Homo sapiens: one gene and its partners. The protein of the gene in region 2 interacts with the protein of the main gene of each other region in a pairwise test. Each region holds a gene or a part of one and is shown on either strand. Other genes may lie near its edges. The genes, in order: RPTOR, SPAG5, PKN1 and GOLGA8F.

Region 1 (7,030 bases), about 52 Mb from region 2:
GCAGTGGCGTGATCTTGGCTCACTGCAACCTCTGCTGCCCGAATTCAAGCAACTCTCCTGCCTCAGCCTCCCAAGTAGCTGGGATTACAGGCACCTGTCACCATGCCCGGAGGAGCCAGTTTTACTAGGCAGGTACAGACTCAATGTCTAAACCAGCCAGGTCAGGACAAGAAAAGTCACAGCCCAACCCACTCGTGAATGCCAATGGGGAGCGCCCAAAGAAATAGCTGGTGAGCGTAAGGCAGCGATGTCAGGGGACATTACCACGCTGGGTGCCCCCAGAAATGCAAGGATATTTCACAAGAAATTCAATCATGTAATTCCCTACCCTAACAAACAGCCATGCACAGGGTCATTCTGAGATGCAGAAAATACATTCAAAGAAATTAATTCCATTTATCAGGAAAATTCTTAACTAACTAGAATAGAATGGGAATTTGCACTCATAAAAAGAGTGAACCAAAGGGAAGGGAATTTCTATAAACTGATATAGAGCACCCACTCAAAAAATCTACAGCAAATGTCGTATCAAAGGTAAAAGGTTAGAAAGGTTTCGTTTACTCTCAAGAGAGAAACACAGATGTCCACTGCCATTCTTTTTTTTTTTTTTGAGATGGAGTCTTGCTCTGTTGCCAGGCTGGAGTGCAGTGGTGTGATCTCCGCTCACTGCAACCTCCGCCTCCCCGGTTCAAGTGATTCTCCTCCAGTAGCTGGGACTACAGGTGCGCACCACCACACCTGGCTAATTTTTTTATAGTAGAGACAGGGTTTCACCATGTTGGCCGGGATGGTCTTGATCTCCTGACCTCGTGATCCGCCCGTCTCGGCCTCCGCCTCCCAAAGTGCTGGGATTACAGGCGTGAGGGACCGTGCCCAGCCCACTGGCATTCTTTCTTTTTTTGCCAGCAACAGGTTTTAAAAAAGATATTACTTAAAATTACAAAAACTGAAAGGTAACGTCATGCCTGTGACCTTTATGCAGAAAGTTAGACTGTCTTGAAGACATAAAGAAGACTTAAGTAAATGGAAAGATACACCCTGTTCAGGAGCAGGAAGACTCATGATGCAAGGAAGTCAGTCATCCCAGGGAAATCCACCAATTCAGCGCCATTCAAACAACACCCCAGTGAGGCTGCTGTCGACACAGAAAGCCTGACTGTGAAATGTATACAGCAGAGCAAAGGGCTAAGAGCGGCCAAGACAGTTCTGAGAAACGAACTGAGGAGCGGGCTCAAAGGTGCTGCCCCCGCAGCTGTGGTGTGACGGCGCGGCCGTGTGGGGTGTCGGCGCGGCTGTGTGGGGTGTCGGCGCGGCCGTGGGGTGCCGGGGTGGCTATGCGGGGTGTCGGTGCGGCCGTGGGGTGTGTCGGTGCGGCCGTGGGATGTGTCGGTGCGGCCGTGTGGGGTGTCGGCATGGCCGTGGGGTGTTGGCGAGGCCGTGTGGGGTGTTGCTGCGGCCGTGGGGTGTCAGCGAGGCCGCGTGGGGTGTCGGGGCGGCTGTGTGGGGTGTCGGCGCGGCCGTGGATGGGATGGGTGCTGCTAAGAATGGAGCCCCCACTCAGACCCTAAGGACTGATGGCCAGGGAGACGCTGAGAAGCACTGGCGGGAGGACGGGCTGTCTGATGAAGGGTCTGGGGTGGCATAAAGAAAAAATACAACCTGGATCCCCACCTCACCACAGAGACAAAATGTGGTTCAGGATATACTTAAGACATGAACACAAAAAAGGAAAATTTTAAATCTTGGAAGAAAATGTAGGAGAATATGTTTAGGACATTGAGAATAGGAAAAACAAGACACAAAAGGCCCAAGTTATAAAGAAAAAGAGAAACTAAAAGATTAAGCTTGTGTGGCACCAAAGGCATCATAAAAAGTCATAGATTAGATGCATTTTCGATGGATATATTCAGCCAGGAATCAGCACCCAGAACTGTGATGAATGCTGATTACAAACTACTCAGAGAAAGATAAACGACACAAGGCGAGTCTGTAAGGCTGCAAGGCTGTAACCTCACTGCAATCAAGGCAGATGCAAATTCATGCCACAAGGAGACACCAGGTGTGTCTATCAGACAGACAAAGGCTGGCCAAGACCGGCGTGGTAGAGAGTGGCGAGATGGGGGCGCCTGCGCTTTAGAACAGAGGATCCCGTGGAAGGCCTGGGGCGACATCTACAAAAGCTGAAGGTGCAGGCACCGTTCACGCAGCAGCTTCACTCTGAGGCAAGGTGGCGAGAGGCACTCACGTGTATCCACGCTGAAGAACACGCACCACACACGTGCCCGTTTATGTGTATTGAGCACCTACTGCGTACCAGGCACTGGGTGTGGACAGGGTGGGAGGAGACAGTGGTTAACAAGGCTGGGTTCCTGCACGTGCGGCTCTCAAGCTCCAGGGGAGAGAGATGGGCCGGGCCAATGAACAAGTTACACGTACAGCACGTCTGCAGTCCACAGTCCTCAGGAGAAAAATAAAGCAGGAAAAGGGAGCAGGGTCAGAGGGCAGCTGGGGAAGCCTGATTCCAGGTGGGGCGTGGGGCTGGGGAGGCTTCTGGGAAGGTGCTGCCAGATGGGGGCTCTGAATGAGAGGGGAGCGGCCACCATATGCCGGAGAAGAGCTTCCCCACCGATGCCCAGGCTGGGGGCCGGGTAGGCTGGGGCCCAGCAGAGCTGGGTGCAGCGAGTGAGGGTGTGTTGGATGTGGGGCTCCATGGTGGCAGGGGCTGAATTCTGAGTTTGCTTATTAAGAAAAGGAACAAAAGGCAAGAAGAAACTAGAACCGGCCTCACTGTCCCCAGACAGGAGAATGGATAATGGAGTCACGGCAGATCGCGGAGGTGAAGGAACAAAACCTAGATGACCATCAAAGATACATATTGAAGTCAGAGCCAAAGAAACGGGCTTTGCGGGCCACGCATCGTGCGACGGCGCCAATAGGAGGTAAAGGCCTCTAAGTGGGCACCACGTGTGTGCCAGGGCTCATGGCCAGGGAGGGAAAGTGTAATGTCACCAGAGGGAATGGGACCGGGGTAGGGTCTGGGGCTCGACCTCTGTAATTCCTTAAGCTGGGAACACAACACACACACACACACACGCAGCGCTCTTATATAAGTCTCTGTAAATTTTTACATGGCTAAAATGCTCCTTAACATGAAAAAAATTCAAATGAAGCCGGTAAGCCACTCTGGATAGTCAGAACAAGAGGAGATGAGGCTCATTTGGTTAAGCCCTAAATCTGTTACCAGCAGTGTGAAGATGAACATAGCTACACAATAAGAAAACACGGTGAATTCCTGCTTCTCCTGTTTTACAACAGCAATCCTGGTGGTAGGACCCAGGCACACACCATTCATGGCAGAACAAGAGAAGAATCTGACCCTTCCGTCAGATTTCCATTTCCAGGCAGTGCTGCGTCAAGCTGCTGGGATGGAGGGAAAGTTGTGTGGAGATTCCGCAGGTGAGCAGGGCGGGGATGACAGCCCCCAGCCCGACCGCAGGGCCCTCCGCCTCTCACTGCGGACACTGTGTGGGGGCTGTCCTGGGCACCAGGGGATGTGAGCAGCTTCCTGGCCTCACCCACTGGGACAAGGAGCACCCCTACTGTACCCCAGTTGCTCGTGGGGGGCAAAACCACCCCCGGCTGAGAACCACCGTTCTGCATCACCAGGGTGTCCAGCACCATGAAGAACTCTCACCCGTCTATGGAACAAAGATGGAAGGTTCTGGCAGCCTTCCCACCCAGCCAAACTGGCCAGCTCCGATGGCTCCGGAGCAGCCTGTAAAATACTACCCCAACACAACAGTGATGTCAACTTTCCCGCTTGCCCCAGCAAAACGTTCTCCCTGCCTCGCAGTCCTGTTGACCTTTATTCTTTCTTTTGAACAGACAGTTTTGACACCCACTGACCTGATGCAGACACAGGTCTGTGCTGCTCTGTGTGGGGAGGAGACCCTCGGGGCCCCTCGGAAGCAGAAAGGGGCAGGCGGACTCACCGATGAGGGAGTTGAGGGAGGAGTAGGAGCTGGCGCGGCGCATCTTGTCGATGGTCTCGAAGGACAGGATATGCTCCTCATTCTCGGGGCTGCCCAGGGTGCTGCTGGCGCTGCTGCTGGTGCTGAGGTTTCCGGGGGAGAACGCCACCGCGCCACCAGCTGCCCGAGACGCAACGGGGTCAGTGGGGTGCTCCCGGGACCCTCCTTTTGGTCTTACAGTTAATGGCATGACTGAGATACATATTTTCTTCTAAATAAAGCTCAGCACACCCAGGCACAAACACACCCTGGTACACACACACCCTGGTGCGCACACACCCTGGCATGTACACACACCCGACATACACACACCCTCATACACACACACCCTGGCGCACACACCCTGGCGCGTACAGACACAACCTGGCGCGTATACACACCCAGTACACACACCCTGGCACACACACACCCTTGTACACACACACACACACCCTGGCATGCACACACCCTTGTGCACACACACCCAGCACACACACACCCTGGCGCACACACACCTGGCGCGCGCACACACCTGGCGCACACACACACCCGGCGCACACACACCCTGGTACACACGCACCCTGGCGCACACACCCTGGCACACACGCCCCGGCGCACACACAGGCACAGGCACTCACTGATCTCCCTGGGAGCCAAGCTCCCCACCCGCAGACCACAGGTTACTGGGAGACGGGGGCAGGGCACAGCCCTCCAAGGAGCCACCGCCTCAACTGCGGCTGCGCTTGAGCTCCCTGCCGCATTGGTAACGGGCCCGCTGGCTATTCTGGGGGCTGGCCTACGCCTCCTTGCCATGCTCACGTCTGGAAGGGTGACTCATCACCATGTTGGCAGATGGGACTTCAGGGCACGCACTTAGACGAAGGGGCAGGGGCAGAGTGGTGCTTACTCAGATACAGTGTTTCAGAAAAAACAACCCCAATCTCTCCCAATCCAATAACCCGATTTCCAGGATCTTACATTCCTCTGTCAAACTCAGGTTCTGCAAAGATTTGTTGAGGCTCCTGGCTGTGGCGACAGCACGGATGTTTCCATAGGAGCTCACAGAACGAAGTCTGGGGGTGCACGGGCTGTCTCGCACTGGGGTCAAACTCCCTCCCTCTGGGAAAGAAGGAGAAAGACAAATTACAATGGGCTTCCAGGTGGAGGCCAGCGTGTCTTCTGACACTCAGCAGCTGGGACACTCGGTGACGGCAGCTGCTACCTGTGCTGCAACAAATGTCAGAGCAGGGGCTGCACAGCTCAGGGAGACTCAGACGTGAGCGGAGGCTCTGCGGGATAGCACTGGACAAACAACAACCGCTTGTGGCTCTGTGCATATTAAATTACAAAAGACAACAGGGGAGAGGCTGGTGGCTGCGGCCTGTCCGAGTGCACACGAGGTGCATGGTGACGTGGGCCGTGAGCCGTGCTCCCCGGGAAGCCGCAGCAGAGCAATGACCGTCCACACTCAGTCTGGCTCACCCTTCTCCCCTCCTGGGCTTCCTAGAAGCAGTGAGGCCTCACTGCTGATGACAAGCCCCTGCACGGCAGAGACGGCTGTGTGGAAGCGGGAGGGGCTGCCGGCAGCGATGAGATAGGAACTGTACTCTCCAGTCAAAACGACACGTGTGAGAAAGCACGCCTGACATGACTCACCGAGCCACGGAGCCAAGAGCAGTGTGATGAAATTACTCATCGCAGGAAGACGGCCCCTGCGCTTTTCCGCAAGCTCCTACTGCAGAAGTTTTGTCATACTTCAAGGTCTCTGTGAGTTTAATTTCCAAAAAGGGTAAAAAGAAAGGAAAAATGTAAGAGGGTCAGTGTGGCCCTCTTTCCTGCCCTTTTAAATCTGGCAGGTGCCTAAAAAGATGAGAAAAACAGGGACCCCTTGCGGCAGGTATCTGAGAAACCTGCGCTTAGACTCTGCGAGGGTGAGCAAGACTGGGCCGCGGCCTGCACTAGAACCGCCAGGCGAGGTGCTCTGCGGGTTCACAGGAGAAGACGCCATACCTGTGGTTGCTGGAGAAGGCAAGGCGTAGTTCTTTTCCTCTTCTATGAACTGCAGGGCCACGGTGCAGAAATTGCTTTCATACTGAACCACAAGATGACTCAGAGCCACCACCAGCTCCTGCCGAGAGGGAGAAGGGACAATAACAGTCACTGGGGCTGGAAAATGATTGTGGAGCAGCAGTGAGACTTGAGTCACCAACAGAAAAAAGAAAGGTTAAGACAAAACCGTGCAATTGGCATCAGAAACAGGGACCATCCCTTTTCGAACCGTCAGAGCAGAGGCCTTGGAATAGCAGAGTGCTGGGAGACGGCAGGCCACTGGCTCACGGGGGAAGCCCAGAATGCCTGCCAGAATCCTCCCCACTGCTAGAGGCGCACGACGCATCGGGGGTCTCGTAAGGACACGGTGAGTCACAGGACTCCAGAGAGGGAAAGGTAGGAGGCCTCACAGCCTCTCGCTTACGGTGACCACTGGGACCCTGGCTGAAAACGCCGCTCTAGATCACACCCGATGGCTGGCGGCCTTTCTGAATCTGAGCGCCCCAGGGCCGAGTGCAGCGGACAAGCCGAAGCCTGCTCTTTTCAACACATGTGAAACTTTCATTGGTAGATGTTTCTAGTCCCTAAGAGGGAACGGGAAAAGTTGTAGAACTAAAACATCATCTTTAGGACCAAATGCCTTGGTCCAAGGGAACAGACACAATTTGCCTCTCTTTTAGGACAGTTCAGTGCTGTGACAGGAACAGCTGGAGATCCTAGAAGTCACTGGGGAACAGAAGGGGGATGTAGGTTTAAAAAGCGGAAAGAACGTTTTTTTCCCTACGACAACTTTTTCTGCCTTTTTTTTTTCTGAAAAGAAAAAATACGGATTCTTAGCAGAAAGCCAAGCGCTGTGAGAGGACCCCTTGCTAGTCGCGTGACGCCCCTGTCTCCACAGCGGCTGGATGAGCAGGCTCTGGATGGGCGCCCACCAGGGACCAGGGTCTTCTCGTGGCCACCCCACTCTCCGT
Region 2 (7,580 bases):
AGATGGCACCACTGCACTCCAGCCTGGGTGACAGAGCAAGACTCCGTCTCAAAAAAAAAATCTGCCAGGCGTGGTGGCACACACCGTAATCCCAGCTACTTGGGAGGGTGAGGCAGGAAAATTGCTTGAATCCGGGAGGCAGAGGTTGCAGTGAGCCAAGATTGTGCCACTGCACTCCAGCCTGGGCAACAGAGTGAGACTCTCAAAAAAAAAAAAATTTTTACAAAACAAAAATAATTGCTATTTTATTGGGGAAAAACCCTTTTCATTGTGTAGCTGACTGCATCTGGAGGTAGTAAGCCCAGCAGTTAAGAGGGAAGGAGAATTCGATTTCAATCTAGTATTCTGCTATTGTGATTAAATAATTATGGTTAAATTCTATAAGTTCAGGCTGGGCGCCATAGCTCACACCTGTAATCCCAGCACTTTGGGAGGCTGAGGTGGGCGGATCACCTGAGGTCAGGAATTCGAGACAAGCCTGGCCAATATGGCGAAACCCCGTCTCTATTAAAAATACAAAAATTAGCCAGGCATGGTGGCACGTGCCTATAATCCCAGCTACTAGGGAGGCTGAGGCAGGAGGATCGCTTGAACCCAGGAGGCAGAGGTTGCAACGAGCCAAGATCGTGCCATTGCACTCCAGCCTAGGGAACAAGAGCAAAACTGCATCTCAAAATTAATTAATTAATTAATAATCATAATAAATTCTATAAGCTCTATAGAGCTAATTTCCACCTAGTACTTATTTATTTTTCATCTTAAGCTGTACTGTCTAATATGATAGCCACTAGCCACATGTAGCTATTGAAATTAAAATTAAAAATTCAGGCCGGGCACAGTGGCTCACGCCTATAATCCCAGCACTTTGGAAGGCGGAGGCGGGCAGATCACCTGAGGTCAGGAGTTCGAGACCAGCCTGACCAACATGGAGAAACCCGTCTTTACTGAAAATACAAAAATTAGCTGGGTGTGGTGGCACATGCCGGAGGCTGAGACAGAAGAATCGCTTGAACCCGGGAGGCAGAGGTTGCGGTGAGCCGAGATCGCGCCATTGGACTCCAACCTGGGCAACAAGAGCGAAACTCCATCTCAAAAAAAAATTAATTAAATTAAATTAAATTAAATATTCAATTATTCAGGCCAGGCACAGTGGCTCACACCTGTAATCCCAGCACTTTGGGAGGCCGAGGCGGGCGGACCACTTGAGGTCAGGAGTTTGAGACCAGCCTGGCCAACATTGTGAAACCCTGTCTCTACTAAAAATACAAAAAATTAGCCAGGCGTGGTGGTGTGCACCTGTAATCCCAGTTACTCAGGAGCCTGAGGCAGGAGAATCGCTTGAGCCCTGGAGGCGGAGATTGCAGTGAGCCAAGATCACGCCACTGCACTCCAGCCTGGGTGACAGAGCAAGACTCCGTCTCAAAAACAAAAAAATTCAATTCTTCAGTCACCTCAGCCACGTTTTAAGTGCTCAATAACCATGTGACTAGTAGTTACCATGCTGGACAGCACAGATTATCAAATATTTCCCTCATCCCAGAAAGTTCTATTGGACAGTAGGTATTTTGCAACTCTTTCAAGAAAGACTGCTATGCTATCATCATACTTCTGTTACTCAGGATGTCATCTGTCTATACACTCTTCTTTCCTCCTCATACCTATTTTATTGATATCCCATCTCCTTCCAAAAATAATTCATATGCATGAAAATGAATAGATACGATTAATGAAATAACAAAGTCATGGTCAAAAAAGAGGAAGCAAAACTTCCTATACAGCTATAACAGTAGCTGTATGTGATGATCCAGTTTGGCCTTGAGCTTTCTAGAAGGCAGAGCAAGAGGGAAAATATGGTAAACTACATAGTTCTCATTATCAGAAAGAAAAGGATAGCAATTTCTTCAGGAAGACAATTTTTCCAGGCAGTTAGTCCTAAAGCCTTTCTTGGAGGAATCTTATACAGGAGTCAAGCTGCTTCCTTGACAAGTTTTGACAGCAACTGAAATGCAGTTTCTACATGGCTACGTCTCTCAAAACGTTTAACAAAAGTACAAATCAGTGAGGGCAATTCTGCAAGGAGCTAGTTTAAACTAAGGTGATTCAAGTACCCTACCTTCCAGTGGTGTAACTTGATCCCAGGAGAGTTCTAACTACCTCCTAGAGTAAATGGATATTGCCTCAATCTTGCAGGTGACTGACCTTTCCGTAAGTGACCCCATGTTGGAGGAAGAGCACTAATCAGGGTGGTAGGATTTCTCAATAGTTTGATAAAGGTCGAAGGGAGGAGGAGGAGGTAATAAAAACTAACAGCTAAACAGAGATTCAAGTTCTCACTGGATTTCCTTTAACCACCCTAGGGCACCTCTCTGTTGGCCTGAATAGCTGTAAATGGATGTCACCGACGTAGAAGACTTCATTATCGTTATTAATTATTGTAGCCCTGGCCCTCTGTTCCCCTGAGCTCTCACCCTGGGCAAACAGCCCAGTCGAGAAGCTGTCCAGGCGAATCTCACCTGCAGCCCCAGCTTGCACAGTGATGGGGTCAGCGAGGAGCAAGCGGGGGATCTTTTTCCAGAGTTGGTGAGGGCACCGGGCTGCAGGGTAAGTTCACGGAGAGGAGTTCTCATAGATGGTTTTCCCTGAGAAAGAAACCAAGAAAGAGGGCGAGTGTGAGGAAGCCTGGGTTCTGCCAGCCCGCCCCTCCTCCCTCCCTAAGAAGCCCAAAATGCGATTAGAAGAGTACGCTCGCACCCTAGTCGCGCAGGAGCAGCAAGGCGAACAAAGACTCCACAAGCCCCCAACCCCGGGCTCGACCCAACTTTCCAGGACAGTAGACACGGCCGGTGCCCCCGCGACAGCAGCCCGGCCCAGTTCTCTCCGCCAGAGATCTCCCGCTTACCGTCTGGGGCGAAGGCGACAGGCTGAGGCTCAGTTTTTTCACTCGCCACATCTTCAACCAGAAGGCAGGCCTATCACGTCTCAGACCAAGTCGAGGACGCCATGTTCACCCGCCGTCTGTGTTTGAACCTGCTCTGCGCTTCCTGGTTGGCTGCTTCAGGCGCGCGCGTACGCTCGGGGGTAGAGCCCGGGGGGCGGGGCCCGCGTTGACCACGCCCCCGGCCCTGCCTGCCCCTCCGTTGTCGAGCGTTTTCCGCTGACGGAGCCCTCACCTCAGACACCGGCGGTAGGGCTGGATGCGGGCCCGGCCCAGGACCGGTCTTCTGTCCTCACACCGGGGAGGACCACGCAGGTAGCTGGAGAGTCCAGGAGTCCATCCCTCCTGCTTCCAGCGGACCTCCTCACATCCATGGTGTTCATATCCAAGTTGTCTCCGTGGATGGAGAAGAGGAATCCTCTCCCTAGGTCTCCCTCAGTCCTCTCCAGCCGCAGCCTTGACGGGAAAGAGCCGGCCAGGGAGTCTAGAAGCCGAAGCGGTGCCGAGCGGCTTCCCTAGGCTTGGTGGGCCCGCGTCCGGGACGGCCCGGGCCGTGGTTCTCGACCTGGGCTGTAATGTCTCCAGAGTTTCTGGGCTTTTCCTGGGACTTACTCAGGCCGGCTACCAGTTTACTGGGCTAACCGCCTACATGTATTGAACATTGAGTGTGTGCCTGGCGCTATGCCGAATGCCGTGTAGTAGCTCATTTAATGCGCATAAGGACCTACGTAGTGAGAAATACTATAAATATCCCCATTTGTGACAGGAAGGAGCTGAGTCAGAGAGACCGTGTGTAATTTGCTCAGCGTCACACAGATAGTAAACGGCAGAGCCGCTCTTCCTCCCTGTCCCGCCAGCTCCTGCCTTCTGCTGTCTTGGATCTCCTATGCACGGGAAACCTGTTGAAGGTAGGACAGCCGAAAGGTCAGTATTCAGAGTGAGCCGTTTGCGAAGGTGTGTGTGCTTTGCACACTCACGGCGCCCTGTTTACACTCTGCAAGTCTTAATACATAGGGGGAAAGCAGCAGTCCAAAGAGGAGGAACTATGATGTTATAAACTGCAGCGTCCTCAGGGACGGGCTCCTCTAGCATTGTGTTGTCCAGTACGTTAGCCCTAGCCATAGTGGCTTTTGAGCACTTCAGATGTGACTAGTCCCAGTGGGAATGTGCTATAAATGTAAAACACTGTACAAACTGGATTTCAAACACGTCGTATGAAAAAAAGAATGCAAAATATCGCCAGGTGCGGTGGCTCATGCCTGTAATCCCAGCACGGAGGAGACAGAGGCAGGAGGATCCTTTAAGCCCAGGAGTTCGAGACCTGCCTCGGCAATATAGTGAGACCTATGTCTACAAAAAAAAAATTTGGGCCGGGCACGGTGGCTCACGCCTATAATCCCGCACTTCGGGAGGCCGAGGCAGGCGGATCACCTGAGGTCAGGAGTTCGAGACCAGCCTGCCCAACACGGCGAAACCCCGTTTCTACTAAAAATACAAAAATTAGCCAGGTGTGGTGGCACACGCCTGTAATCCCAGCTACTTGGGAGGCTGAGGCAGGAAGAATCTCTTGAACCTGGGAGGCGGAGGTTGCAGTGAGCTGAGATGGCACCACTACACTCCAGCCTGGGTGACAGAGCTAGACTCCGTCTCAAAAAAAAAAAAAAGTTAAGCCAGGGGTGGCAGGGTTGGGGGCACACACCTATAATCCCAGCTTGGGAGGATCGCTTGAACCTAGTTCAAGGCTGCTGTGAGCTATGATCATCCCACTGCACTCTAGCCTGGGCGACAAAGCAAGACCTTGTCTCAAAAAAAAAAAAAAATATATATATATATATTTTTTTTTTTTAATACTGTTTACATATTGAAATATTTTAGGAATATTGGGTTAAATAAAATACATTAAAATTAATTTTCTTTTGAGACAGGGTCTTGCTTTATCACCCAGGCAGGAGTGCAGTGGTGCAATCATGGCTCACTGCAGCCTTGAACTCCTAGGTTCAAGCAATCCTCCTGCCTCAGCCTCCTGAGTAGCTGGGACTACCGGCATGTGCCACCACGCCTGGCTAATTTTTTATAAAGACAGTCTCTTGCCATATTGCCCAGGCTGGTATTGAATTCCTAGGCTCAAGCGATCCTCCCATCTCAGCCTCCCAAAGTGTTGGGAGTACAGTCATGAACGACCCCACCCAGCCTTTTTAAACTTTTTTTTTTAATCTAATTTTTTTTTTTTTTGAAACATGGTCTGGCGCTGTTGCCCAGGCTGGAGTGCAGTGGCACGATCTCACCTCCCTGCAACCTCCACCTCCTAGGCTCAAGCGATCCTTCTGCCTCAGCCTCCCAAGGAGCTGGGATTACAGGCATGTGCCACCACGCCTGGCTAATTTTTGTATTTTTAGTAGAGACAGGTTTCACCATGTTAGCCAGGCTAGTCTTGAACTCCTGAGCTCAGGAGATCCACCCGCCTCAGCCTCCCAAAGTGCTGGGATTACAGACATGAGCCACTCTACCCGGCCCCTCTTTTTACTTTTTGAATGTGGATACTAGCAAATTAAAAATTACTTATGTGGGCCAGGCACAGTGGTTTGGCTGATCTTGGCTCACTGAAACCTCTGCCTCCCAGGCTTAAGCAATCCTCCCACCTCAGTCTCTTGAGTAGCTGAGACCATAGGTGCATGCCACCATGCCCAGCTAACTTTTTGTGTTTTTGGTAGAGACGGGGTTTCACCATGTTGCCCAAGCTGGTCTCCAACTCCTGAGCTCAAGCTGCCTGCCCGCCTCGGCCTCTGAAAGTGCTAGGATTACAGACGTGAGCCACTGCACCTGGCCTATTTAAATTTTTTTAAAAAAGCTTTGACAACATTTCTACATTGAAGACTCTATCAAACAAGTAACCAATAAATTGAGATTACTAATTTATTACATCAATGAGCAAGTGAACAAATGAACAGATTAATATGTAATAAAGTAACTTAGGTTAGAGATAAGAAATAATGAGTAGAGCTACAAAGATACTTTTCTAGAGGAGTATAGGATTGGTGTTGACTAATCTTAAATTCTTACAAAAGATAACATGAAATATAGAATTAAATATCCATTACAAGTGAAGTCTATCAGATTTCTTTTTTTTGAGACGGAGTCTTGCCTCGCTTTGTCACCCAGGCTAGGATTAAAGGCACGTGCCACCACACCTGGCTAATTTTTATATTTCTTTAGTAGAAACAGGGTTTTACCACGTTGGCCAGGCTGATCTCAAACTCCTGACCTCAAGTAATCCACCTGCCTCAGCCTCCCGAAGTGCTGGGATTAAAGGCGTGGGCCACCACACCTGACCTCTTTCTTTTTTTGAAGCAAGGTCTCTGTCACCCAAGCTGGAGTGCAGTGGCATGATCATAACTCACTGTTTCAATTGGCAATAATCAGTAATAATTGTGCCTCGGATAAACCTTACTGGCTATGATACTGCCACTGCCCAAAGCTGATTATAGGTCACTGTAGCCTCGACCTCCTGGGCTCAAGTAATCCTCCTCAGCCTCCCAAAGTGTAGGGATTATAGGCATGAGCCATTGCACCTGGTCCTGATTTCTTTTAGATTAAAAAAAAAAATCAGAGCATATAAACTTAAAAGATCATTTCAGATTGTATATTGAAAAAAATGAAAAAAAAAAATTTTTTTTTTTTTGAGACAGTCTCACTCTGTCACCCAGGCTGGAGTGCAGTGGCACAATCTCGGCTCGCTTCAACCTCTGCCTCCCAGGCCCAAGCTATTCTTGCGCCTCAGCCTCCTGAGTACTGGGATTACAGGTACACACCACCATGCCCAGCTAATTTTTATATTTTTAGTAGAGACAGGGTTTCACCATGTTGGCCAGGGTGGTCTCAAACTCTTGGCCTCAAGTGATCCACCCACCTTGGCCTCCCAAAGTGCTGGGATTACAGGCATAAGCCACTGCACTGGGCCTAAGGGAATTTTTTTTTTTTCTTTTTGAGACGGACTCTCACTGTCACCCTGGCTGCTGGAGTGCAATGGCGTGGTCTCGGCTCACTGCAACCTCCGCCTCCCGTGTTCAAGCGATTCTCCCACCTCCACCTCCCTGGGACTACAGGCACGTGCACCACACCTGGCTAATTTTTGTATTTTTAGTAGAGACAGGGTTTCACTATGTTGGCCAGGCTGGTCTTGATCTCCTGACCTCGTGATCCGCCCACCTCGGCCTCCCAAAGTGCTAGGATTTACAGGCGTGAGCCACTGCGCCGGGCCAGGAATTTTTTTAATTTTAATTTTTAATTTTTGTGAGTATATAGGTGTATATATTAAGTGAATTTCATGTGAATATGTAAAAGGTATAAGTCAGTGACTCTGAATGGAGGTGGAGGGAAGAGGAGGAGAAAATGCCTTCCAGAGATAATCACATCAGAACTGGATGAAAGAGTCCGTGCTTTTTCTTTTTTTTTTTTTTTAATGGGAAAGGACTTCAATATTTTATTTTATATACTTTCTTTTTTTTTTTTTTGTGGGTTCCTCTCTTTTTTTTTTTTTTAATTTAATTTTATTTTATTTTTTATTGATCATTCTTGGGTGTTTCTCGCAGAGGGGGATTTGGCAGGGTCATAGGACAATAGTGGAAGGAAGGTCAGCAGATAAACA
Region 3 (7,986 bases), on a different chromosome or scaffold from region 2:
AAGCCACTGCACTCTAGCCTAGGCGACAGAGCGAGACTCCATCACAAAAAAAAAAGGAAAAGAAAAAAAGAAAGGCTGGGGGCAGTGGCTCACACCTGTAATCCCAGCACTTTGGGAGGCCTAGGCGGGCAGGTTACTTTGAGCTCAAGATTTCAAGACCAGCCTGGGCAACATGGCGAAACCCTGACTCTACTAAAAATACAAAAATTAGCCAGGCGTGGTGGTGTGCACCTGTAGTCCCAGCTACTCAGGAGGCTGGGGTGGGAGAACGGCTTGAGTCTAGGAGGCAGAGATCATGCCGCTGCACTCCAGCCTGGGTGACAGAGTGAGACCCCAGTCTCAATTTAAAAAAATAAAGAAAAAAAAATTAGCCAGGTGTGGTGGTGCATGCCTGTAGTCCTGTAGATCAGGTGTTTGAGGCTGCAGTGAACAAGAATCTCGTCACTGCATTCCAGCCTGGGTAACAGAGCGAGACCCTGTCTCTACAAAAGTAAAAGGAAATTAGCCAGGCATGTTGGTCTGTGCCTTTTGTCCCAGCTACTTGGGAGGCTGAGGCAGGAAGATCACTTGAGCCCCGGAAATTGGAAATCGAGGCTGCGGTGACATAGGATCGCACCACTGTACTCCAGCCTGGGTGACAGAGCAAGACTCTCTCCTCTAAAATAAATAAATATAAATCAGTAAATCAATCAATAAGGACACAGATTCACACCCTGAGCTGCTGACCAGGACGCTTACCAGTAACGACTTCACAGCAGCCCTGCCTGCCAAGTGCTGGCAAGGTCTCGGTCTCTCTCTCTCCCATGAACACCCTCTTAGTCCCATTTTTCCTAGGTCAGAACCGAGGCTCAGAGAGGCGAAGGCACTGGGCCCAGGACACACAGCGAGGAAGTGTCAGCGCTGGAATTTAAGCCCAGGCTCACCAAATACCACCCTCGCTCAGAAGGCCCCACCCCATCCCCAGCAGGCAGAGGGAGGACACAGCCAAGAGCGGGGCCAGCTCAACTGGGGAAGTCCAGGCAGAGAGGAGAGGTGGCCTCCCTCAGCCCCACCTCCAGCAGCTGAGGTCTGTAATGCACAGAGGGAGGGAGGCTGGGCTCCTGGGTTCTCCTCCCCTGAGTGACTCACTTCTACCCAAGGCACAGGGGTCACCTGAGGGCCAGCAAGGCAAACCCAGGACTCAGGGCCCTGGCCTGGCCTGTCCTATGGAGAACCCCTGCTCCTCCGCTGCCCACCATGGAGCGGAGACCTCAGACCCAGAGGACCTGCCTCCCATAATCCCCATCTTGCCAGAGCAGCCAGGGACCTAGACTCCCACATCCGGAGATTTCAATGCCTTGGGCGTTTCCGGAATCTGGACAGGACATCCGTTTGCAGGACACAGAACAGACAGGCACACGTTGGGACAGACAGAGGGACAGGGCAGCAGGCCCAAGCAACCATGAGAGAGGGATGACCAGGAGCGGGGAAGAGACTGGGGAGGAGATGGGAAGGGGGGACCAGGGCGTGGGTCCAGCCTCGTTGCAGGAATCACAGCCTGTCTGGGTCATGTGTGGGATGCGCCAAGCGCATGCATGCACCCGGGGATTCCTACACAGCCCTCCCTGGGCCGGGGGTAGAGGCAGGGACCCCGGCCCATCCCGGCCTTGAGGTCTGACCTTGTGTGATCGGCAACACCAGATACGCCCAGCTCCTCGGCAAGGCCGGCAGGCCATCAGCAGGACTGGGAAGGCGGGAGGGACCGGGGGTTACCGGGGAGACACAAAGGGGCCGGGGGCAGGTGCAGAAGGAGACGAGAACCCAGTTACACAACAACCACAGGACAATGAACTGGATGGTGAGGTGCTAATGGGGACACTGAGGCACAGACATTTCTCAGATTTGGGTCACTTGAACCAAAGAAGGTTGGCAGTCACCCTGGCCGTGCTTGTCACAGACGGGGAAGATGAGTCCAGGTCAGTGATCCCCACCAGGTGGCACAAGGGGAATCTGGCTGGGCGGGAGGCTGGTGCCAGTCACGTGTGTGTGTTAGCAGGGTGGGGGTGACCCAGCCATGCCCAGCCACCATGCAAAAAAGTAGGATTCTATATATGGGAGCATCCCTGGCCTGTTGACTGAGACACTCCCCACCCAGGAGAAGGTTCCACCTGACAGCCCAAGGGTGGGAGTGGGGGTCCCCATTCCCCCGACCTAATGCAGTGACTCGGGTACTTCCGCCAACAGGTGCCAATCTGGGTGGCGTCTGGAACATCATAAAGCTGTCTAGAGGCGGGGGTGGCTGGAGCTTTGTTATGCGGGGGAAGGGCACGGGCCGGGCCCAGCAGCCTCCTCCCCTCCCAGGGCACTGCGCCAGGCACGTGCCCCAGGTGGAGCGGCACCTGCCGGGTACCCAACCCTGGGGAGGGGGATGAGTTTGGGGGCGGACGAGAGGCACTGGGACGCCCAGCCAGCCACAGACACCCGAAGTAGAGCCTCCGCCGCGCCCCTTCTAGTTCTCCAGGAGAGGCCGAGTTTGAGGGTGTAGCAGGGGTTGCCTCCGGGATCGCCCCCAAACCAGCCCAGTCCACATCGCCACCTGCCGAGAAGGGGGCCTCGCTGGCTCCACAGTCCCGGCCCAGGGAGGGGGCGCCGGGCGCTCCGGAGGCCCCCGCCCTTGCCATCGTCACCCGAGTCCCGTTCCGGGGGCTGGGGGGGCTCCCCCGGCAGCGCGCGGGCGGGGTCCGCCGGCGCCGTCCGGTCGCCCCGGGACTCCAGACGCAGGTGCGCCTACCTGCACGGCGTCGCTGGCCATGTCCTCCTGCCGCCCGCCAGGGGTCCCCGCGCGGAGGGAGGGGCGGCCAGAGGAGCGCGCGTGCGCCCCGGGCGTGGCGGGGAGGGGGCGGGCGCGGCGCGACCCTCCCCGGCGCGCGGCCCGCTCCGGCCTGCTCGGCTCCCGCCTCGCCTGGCCAGGCCGCCGCGTCCCCGCGCCGCGCCCTCCGGCCCCAGCGGCCGCCGGGCCTGGTCACGTGACCCCGGAGGTCGGCGCCCGGGGAGGGGGCGGGGCCGAGGGGGGACGGGTTCCCAGAGGCCCCCGGGGCTGCGGGGTCCCGCCCGTCCGCCCCCTCGGTCTCCCGAGCCCGGAGCATCCCCATCGGCTCCCCACCTTTCCTCTTTCCGGGTCCCGAGACGACCGCACGCTGCCGAGGGGTCCCCCATTGGAGCGCGCGGGAACCCGAGGAGAACGGTTCCACGCGTTCAAGCCGAGAGCGGCGGAGGCCTTTGGGCCTCCCGGGACCCCTGAAAAAAACAAACAGAATAACCCCCCACCCCACCCTACCCCGGTGCATTTGCAAGCTCGGGACGCCTGCATCTGTGGTCCCCTATTCAAGGGCATGGAAGTTTCCCCGTTACCTGGAGACAAGCTCTGGGCGGATCTGCATTCAAATCCTAGCGCTTTACGCCTTGAGGGAGACAAACCCTTCCAGGCACCTCATCTGTGAAATGGGAATGATGCGCTCACCTCCTCGGTGTTGGTAAAATTCAATAAGACAGTGCAGGCCAAGAGCTGAGAACACACTAGACGCTCCATAAGTGTTAGCTGCTGTCACTTTTAATGTTATCGTAATTGTTTGTTTGTTGTTTTGCTATTTTTGGACGGAGTTTCGCTCTGTTGCCCATGCTGGAGTGCAGTGGCGCGATCTCGGCTCACTGCAACCTCCGCCTCCCGGATTCAAGTGATTCTTCTGCCTCAGCCTCCTGAGTAGCTGGGATTACAGGTGCCCACCACCATACCCGGCTAATTTTTGTATTTTTAGTAGAGACGGGGTTTCATCATATTGGCCAGGCTGGCCTCGAACTCCTGATCTCAGGTGATCCGCCCGCCTCGGTCTCCTAAAGTGCTGAGATTACACAGGCCTGAGCCACCGCGCCCAGCCTCTATTATCGTTATTGTTATTAAAAGAGGTTTGAATCCCAACTTGCTGTTCATCCTGGGGACCCCTGTGGCCTCTGAGTCTCAGTTTTCCCCGCTATAAAATGGGCATCGCCTTCTTTTTCGGGGCTGCTGCATGCAGATGGCGCTCCATAAATGCAGACTCGTGCCCAAGCGGAGAGTGGAGGCCTCTGCGGAATTTCTAGGGGATCTCCGGGGTCTGCAGAGCGTGCAGCTTTGTTCGTGGCCGCCGTCGGACCCTCACTCCTTCGGAAACCAGGCGAGGGAGCCAAACCTTGGTCTCCGGGGCTCCGGCAGGGAGCGCTCCCTGGCGGCGGTGCCTGCACATTGGCGCCCTTTGGGACCCGAGGAAGCGCCGTGGGCTGCGGGTACCTTGGTTACCCGTGGCTCTGCGTGGTTTCAGTCGTCCCAGAAACCAGGGCGCGATGTTTTCTCTCTTATTTTTTCCTCTGAGCAACTCTTTGGGAGATACTAACAACAGAAAGAGAGAAGGAGGAGAATTATGCTGATCCAGAACCCATCCAGCCGGGCATGGTGGCGCACGCCTGTAGTCCCAGCTACCAGGAGGCTGAGGCGGGAGGATCGCTTGAGCTCAAGAGGCCGAGAATGCATCACTGTGGGGAGAAATCATGATGCCCCTGCACTCCAGCCTGGGTGACAGAGCGAGACCCTGTCTAAAAAAAGAAAGAAAAAAAAAAACGGCTGGGTGCAGTGGCTCACCCCTGTAATCCCAGCCCTTTAGGAAGCCAAGGTGGGTGGTGGATGGATCACTGGAGGTCAGGAGTTCGAGACCAGCCTAGCCAATATGGTGAAACCCATCTCTGCTAAAAAATATAAAATTAGCTGAACGTGGTGGCGCATGCCTGTAATCCCAGCTACTCGGGTGGCTGAGGCAGGAGAATAGCTTGAACCCAAGAGGCGGAGATTGCAGTGAGCCGAGATCGTGCCATTGCACTCCAGCCTGAGCGACAGAGCAAGATTCCATCTAAAAAAAGAAAAAAGAGGGGGCCAGGTGTGGTGGCTCACGCCTGTAATCCCAGCACTTTGGGAAGCAGAGGCAGGCGGATCACGAGGTCAGGAGATTGAGACCATCCTGGCTAACATGGTGAAAGCGGCGGGCGCCTGTAGTCCCAGCTACTAGGGAGGCTGAGGCAGGAGAATGGCATGAACCCAGGAGGCGGAGCTTGCAGTGTGCCGAGATCGCGCCACTGCACTCCAGCCTGGGCGACAGAGCGAGACTCCCTCTCAAAAAAAAAAAAAAAAAGAGAAAGAAAACAACAACAACACACACACAAGCCCAGAATTCACCCACATTTCACCTTTCCACTTTGTCGCATCCAGTCCCTACCATCACTCACCTTAACCAGTAGTCACCTCTCTCCTGGTCTCCTGGTTTTGCCCTCGCCCCCACAGTCTGTTCCCACAACAGCCCAAGGGAGCAGTGAACACATGAGATGGGGTATGCCCCTCCTCTGTCTAGAACCCTCCATGGCTCCCAGCTCACTCAGGGAAAAAACTCAGGTCCTCCCCACAGCCCACGAAGCTCTGCACCATCAGTTCTTACTTCCTCCCATCTCTCCCCCTTGCTCACTCCTTCCAGCCACATGAGCCTTCTAACTGTTTCTCAAATGCTTGTTGATTGAATAAAAGAAAGAACTCTGTGGCTGGGCGCAGTGGCTCCCACCTGTAATCCCAGCAATTTAGGAGGTCAAGGGGGGTGAATCACTTGAGGCCAGGAATTCGAGACCAGCCTGGCCAACATGGTGAAACCCCATCTCTACTAAAAATTAAAAAATTAGCCAGGTGTGCTGGCGGGCATCTGTATATTCAGCTACTTGAGAGACTGAGGCAGGAGAATGGTTTGAACCTGGGAGGCGGAGGTTGCAGTGAGCCAAGATCGCACCCCTGCACACCCCCCTGGGTGATAGAGCAAGACTGTCAGAAAGAAAGAAAGAGAGAGAGAGAGAGAGAGAGAGAGAGAGAGGAAGGAAGGGAGGGAGGGGAAGGGAGAAAAAGAAAAGAGAAAAGAAAAGAACTCATGGCCAGGCATGGTGGCTCACGCCTGTCACCCCAGCACTTTGGGAGGCCCAGACGAGCAGATCACGAGGTCAGGAGATCGAGACCATCCTGTCTAACACGATGAAACCCCATCTCTACTAAAAATACAAAAAATTAGCCGGGCGTGGTGGCGGGCGCCTGTAGTCCCAGCTACTCGGGAGGCTGAGGCAGGAGAATGGCGTAAACCTGGGAGGCAGAGGTTGCAGTGAGCTGAGATCACGCCACTGCACTCCAGCCTGGGGGACAGAGCGAGACTCCAGCCTGGGGGACAGAGCGAGACTCCCTCTCAAAAAAAAAAAAAAAAAAAAAACAAAAAAAAACTCTGCAAGCTAGTTCTTTCATATTTATTTATTTATTTGTTTGTTTGTTTGTTTAGACAGAATTTCGCTCTCGTTGCCCAGGCTGAAGTGTGATGGCACGATCTCAACTGAACGCAACCTCTGCCTCCCTGATTCAAGCAATTCCCAGCCTTAGCCTCCTGAGTAGCTGGAATTACAGGCATGTACCACCACACCCGGCTAATTTTGTATTTTTAGCAGACATGGGGTTTCTCTACATTGGGCAGGCTGGTCTCGAACTCCTGACCTCAGGTGATCTGCCCACCTTGGCCTCCCAGAGTGCTGGGATTACAGGTGTGAGCCACCGCGCCCAGCCTGATATTTATTTATTTAGAGACAGGGTCTCACTCTGTCACTCAGGCTGGGGTGCAGTGGCGCCATCGCAGCTCACTGCAGCTTCCACCTTGCAGGTTTAAACGATCCTCCTGCCTCAGCCTCCCAGGTAGCTGGGACCACAGGTGTGCACCACCATGTCTGGCTAGTTTTTTCAAAAAATTTTTTTGTGTGTGTGTAGATACTGGATCTCGTAATATTGCCCAATCTGGTCTTGAACTCCTGGGCTCAAGCAATTCTTCTGCATTGGCCTCCTGAAATGCTGGGATTACAGGCATGAGCCATCAAGCTTGGCCCAAACTAGTTCTTTTGCTCCAGTTTTGCAGGTGAGTAAGCTGAGAAGTCCCTTACCCCAATCATCAAGCCAGGATGTCTATGGCCCTTTCCCTGAGAAACGAAGTAGCTCCCTCTAATTCTCCAGCCCACCCATTCTACAGATGAGGAGGACAAGGCAGAGTGAGGTTTCATGGGGGCCGAAGGATTGGGTTGTCTGGAACCACCTTGCACAGGGATGGGCCCTCCCTCCCCAACCTGTGAGGTCCCAGGCTGCCTCCCCAGATGGAGCTGGGGAAACCAGCCAAATTCTCGCTCCACCCTTCAGGCATTCATTTACTCAGTGAATATTTACAGAGACCCACTGGGGAATTTGGTGGCACTGGAGATAAAGTTGCAGTTCAGGCCTTTTTTTTTTTTTTGGAGACAAAGTCTCATTCTGTCACCCAGGCTAGAGTGCAGTGGGTGAGATCACAGCTCACTGCAGCGCAGCCTCAACCTCCCAGGTTCAAGTCATCCTCCCACCTCAGCCCCTTGAGTAGCTGGGACTGCAGGCATGCACTACCATGCCCAGCTAATTCTTTTTTTTTTTTTTTTTTTTTTTTTTTTGCAGAGATGAAGTCTCACTGTGTTGCCCAGGATGGTCTTGAACTCCTGGCCTCAAGTGATCCTCCCGCCTCGGCCTCCCAAACTGCTGGGATTACAGTTATGAGCCACCACGTCCAGCCACACTTTGTTTGCTAAAAGGGGAGACGTGGCCAGGTGTGGTGGCTCAAGCCTGTAATCCCAGCACTTTGGGAGGCCGAGGTGGGTGGATCACCTGAGATCAGGAGTTTGAGACCAGCCTGGCCAACATGGTGAAACCCCATCTGTACTAAAAATACAAAAAAAATTAGCTGGGTGTGGTGGTGAGTGCCTGTAGTCCCAGCTACTCAGGAGGCTAAGGCAGGAGAATCGCTTGAATCCGGGAGGTGGAGGTTGCAGCAAGCCAAGATTGCACCATTGCACTCCAGCCTGGGCAACAAGAGCAAGACTCCGTCTCAAAAAACAAAC
Region 4 (3,888 bases), on a different chromosome or scaffold from region 2:
TGCTGGAGCTGCAGGAGATGGTGTTGCAGCTGGTGGCGACTACAAGGGACACAGCAAATTCTTGGTGACTGCCCAGAACCCTGCTCATGAGCCCAGTCCAGGAGCCCCAGCCCCCCAGGAGCTTGGGGCTGCCCACAAGCATGGTGGTGAGTAGAGCCCTCAGGCGGGGTGGGCAGGCAGGAGCAGGGGGGCTCTCACTGAGCTCAGATCCCCGCCTCCCTCTCTCCAAAGATCTTTGTGAGGTGAGCCTCACTGACAGCGTGGAGCCTGTGCAAGGAGAGGCCAGGGAGGGTTCTCCCCACGACAACCCTACTGCACAGCCGATCGTGCAGGACCACCAGGAGCACCCAGGCTTGGGCAGCAACTGCTGTGTGCCATTCTTTTGCTGGGCTTGGCTGCCAAGAAGAAGGAGATAAACATCACCATCGTCAAAGAGCTGCTGAAGAAATTTTTAAAAAAGAAACAAAGTTATGGGGTTAATCTCCTACACAATTCATTTACTTCATTTGAATGTTATAGCCACTTATGATTATTTGTGTTTCTAATTTATAGTTTAAGTTCATTTGTAAATAGTTAAAAGAGAGTGGGTCTCTGTGGCTTTCACTGATGTTCACTCTGGCATACTTTCGCAATTTTCTTTTTCAATTTCATAATTGTAGGTCATTAGCATGCATATTGAGTTTGCCCTTACGTGGTGGGAGTTCAAACACACAAAGACCCACTATTTGCACAAAACTATTCTTGCTGGTTTGGAATAGGCTGCCATGTGTTTTTAATGTTATTGCAGCATGTATATTCATTACAGAATTCAGATAAAATGTGCCTATGTTCTGCTGTTGTTTGATCTAATCTTAATCACAGTGAGCTCTTCATTAGCACAATATGTGGTTTGCCCCAAGTGTGCACTATTTAATACTTTGTAATATGCCACCAAGAGTACTGACATTTAGAGTTGTTTAAAGGCCGAGAACTGGAAACAGCCTTTCCCTCATTTTCTGTGTATTGGTGATGGGAGTAATAACATTTTGGGGGAGCTTTTTAAATTTCACAGAAGAGGAAAGTTGCCTGCTCTGGCAGGTATGTGCAAGATAGAGTGTGTTTCATTTGTTCTGTTGCCAAGAATTAGTGCTGTACTATTGTAGTTCCTTTAGGATTTGTATGTGCTCTGGGCTCATGAAGATATTGCATCATGAGCTTCAGCAGTTGTACTCTTTTTTGATGACCTAAAAAGGGCTTATTTCTGAGGAATGAAAGGTTCCCATCATTGACTACGGATGTGGAAAACCTTTCCTAGCTTAGAGCATTTGTATCTATATTTTAAAGTCAGAGTTCATGTTACCTGTTTTAATCACATGACTGCATGTCCCAGTACACAAAAGGGCACTGGTTGGCATTCTTCTTAATGTATTTAGTAAAGATCATAAGAAATCCTTTAAGAGTTCAAATGTCCCTGGAACAGGCATACAAGCTCTAGTCAAGAATGAATTAGAGTGAAGGAAAGCTGTGTGACACCTGGCATTCCTCTGTTCATGGAGCTTCTTTGAGGCTTGAAGATTGATTTTACCATCTAGACCACTCTGCCTATTCTTCAACCACCTTGGTTACTTTGACATAGGAATTGACTTCTTTTCCTTGAATGGAAAACACTTTGAAATAATAATAAACATTGTTATAAACTAATATATGTGAGAGTGCTTAGTTGAAACAAAAAGGAGTTTTAGTAGACAGTATTATACTATCTTTGAAAATCAAGGAGAAGTTTATGCAACTTAAAATGTGTACAAACTGCAGTGCAATCTACTGTTGGTGAATGTCAGTGTATTATCAGGAAACATGTCTATACAATCACAGAGTTATATTTCCTCACAAACTTCTTTGTGAAGAGTGAAATGTGTTTCTGTACCTCTGGGTTTCACTTACGGGCATATTTTGTGCAGTATTTATGTGATTGTGCCTATGCATGATGAATGAATGAATTTCAGTTGTACATTGCCTAAATCATAACTTGATGATGCTTGGGAAAGACTCAACAGTTAAAACTTCATGAAGTTCTAATGTCTGTGTTCCAAAACACATCACATTATTAGGATGTAGGGAGATATGTATGTGTGCTCCCTGGGGTGGGGATTTCTAGTTACTAGACCATCTCCATTTTTAGCATTTGGCATCCTCATGATACTTTTATAAATACGACATTAACAGGAGAGCAGCAGTACGATTTTGCCGATGGAATAACAGATTTGCCGGCAATCACTGAAAGAGTGCAAACATCGGGTCCTTGTGACTTCAACGGACTCTTCCAAATTGTATGAATGTATCAATGTATTAGATAAACCCAGTTTCAGAATGATAAAGAAAAAATGTTAGACCAAATAATGCGGCTAGTTAACAGTGGTACGATTTCTCGCCCGTGGCTTTAAAATGCACTTAAAGTCCTGTCCTTGCCTTTTATTTTCTGAACTTGATGTTTTTGCATTCTTTGAGTTCAGTTTAAAGACAACTACGAGCATCTGTAACCAATCTGACAATAATGTGTTCATCAGGTGCCTGTGGATTAAATCACATACTGGCATATTTAAGCTGAATGTCAATCTGGAAAATAAATTGACTGTATTAACGGAAATACCACTCTTTGTGTAGATATTTGTCGTATATTTAAGAAAAAGCTAAAAAGAATGGAAATCGCATGACTATAACTTAAGTCTTTCTTCAAAGTGCATGCAGTCTTTTGCGATACCTCATTCAGCCAAGTATTGGTATTCTTCCTCATTCGGTATAAGGCAGCTTTCAATTTGCTTAGAGGGCAACATTGGAAGGTTAGAGTTCATCAGAAACAGAATTCTAAAATGTGAGTTCAATTCAATAAATTTGAATTTCTGTAGGAAGAATCAAATCACCGATTTAAAGATTGCAATATATAATAATCATTTTTAAAGTATTGGATTAAATCTGATAGGTTTTCCAGAAATGAACAAAAATCAGCTCTAAAACCAAAGCTGATTTTTAGAAAATTTGAAAATGTAAATCAGCCCTATCCATACTATAGTTTCTCTAAAACTTTATCTGAAACAGTCATTTTAAAATAACTATTAAACAATGTAACTGCTATCTTAATGTTCTGAAATAAGTTAAAACATTTTAAAATATGAATACTGTAAAGGAAATAAACGGTGGGAAGGAAAAGTAGAGAAAGAAATGCCAATTCCAGTCCAAAGCTTTATTTGCCAAGTTTTCTTAGAATGAATTTTACCAATTTATGAATTCTTGTAAGCGGAATGTAAAACGGAAATACTGAAAGACTTTTGCCTAAAGTGGCATTATTGACTGCTGGTGTGATGCTACTGTAATGTAATAAATTATTAAGTTGTTGCAAAGTGCTGTTTTTGCCTTAAAATTTTATTCTGTGTGTCTTCAAAAATATAGTATTAAAGGTATTGATACTGTGCAAATGCTGAGCATGCTTGGCATGAGATAATGTTTCATTTTTACAAAATTGTAATATAACTATGCAAGGGTTTATTAAAAGAACACAAAATAAAAAAGTTATGGGATTAACAAAAGTTATGGGGTGAAAAAGTTATGGGATAAAAAATGTAAAAAAGTTGTGGCAAAAAAATCTTGTGACCAAAAAGTAGAAGAAAGTTTTATGAAAAGTTACCAAAAAAAGTTATGAAAAAGAAGTTATGGGATTTAAAAAAAAAGGCATGGGATAAAAATAAAAATTAAAATTAAAAGCAGGCCCCTGTCAGCAAAGCCTGGAGAAGTGGGGCTGGGGTCTCCACCACCACACTGTCCCTATCTCCCCTTCCCAGTCACCCCTTTACAATTAGGGTAGCAGGACAAGACCTCTGTCTAACGAGGAAAGACAAACAGACCCTTTGCCACCTT

What was found.
Region 1: the proteins of SPAG5 (region 2) and RPTOR interact in binary tests that used the Homo sapiens proteins (3 or more experiments, as listed by UniProt).
Region 3: the proteins of SPAG5 (region 2) and PKN1 interact in binary tests that used the Homo sapiens proteins (3 or more experiments, as listed by UniProt).
Region 4: the proteins of SPAG5 (region 2) and GOLGA8F interact in binary tests that used the Homo sapiens proteins (3 or more experiments, as listed by UniProt).

What each region holds. Positions count from the first base shown.
Region 1 is NC_000017.11:80,890,828-80,897,857, reverse strand, and holds part of RPTOR (regulatory-associated protein of mTOR), read right to left. Parts: exon of another isoform or gene 6,139-7,030; coding exon 6,021-6,138; exon of another isoform or gene 5,687-6,020; intron 5,130-5,686; coding exon 4,989-5,129; intron 4,152-4,988; coding exon 3,993-4,151; intron 1-3,992. UniProt on the Homo sapiens protein: Component of the mechanistic target of rapamycin complex 1 (mTORC1), an evolutionarily conserved central nutrient sensor that stimulates anabolic reactions and macromolecule biosynthesis to promote cellular biomass generation and growth.
Region 2 is NC_000017.11:28,595,997-28,603,576, forward strand, and holds the start of SPAG5 (sperm-associated antigen 5), read right to left. Parts: upstream 3,030-7,580; 5' UTR 2,951-3,029; coding exon 2,900-2,950; intron 2,640-2,899; coding exon 2,514-2,639; intron 1-2,513. UniProt on the Homo sapiens protein: Essential component of the mitotic spindle required for normal chromosome segregation and progression into anaphase. Required for chromosome alignment, normal timing of sister chromatid segregation, and maintenance of spindle pole architecture.
Region 3 is NC_000019.10:14,428,327-14,436,312, reverse strand, and holds the start of PKN1 (serine/threonine-protein kinase N1), read right to left. Parts: upstream 3,008-7,986; 5' UTR 2,792-3,007; coding exon 2,771-2,791; intron 1-2,770. UniProt on the Homo sapiens protein: PKC-related serine/threonine-protein kinase involved in various processes such as regulation of the intermediate filaments of the actin cytoskeleton, cell migration, tumor cell invasion and transcription regulation.
Region 4 is NC_000015.10:28,388,648-28,392,535, forward strand, and holds the end of GOLGA8F (golgin subfamily A member 8F), read left to right. Parts: coding exon 1-146; intron 147-231; coding exon 232-416; 3' UTR 417-3,374; downstream 3,375-3,888.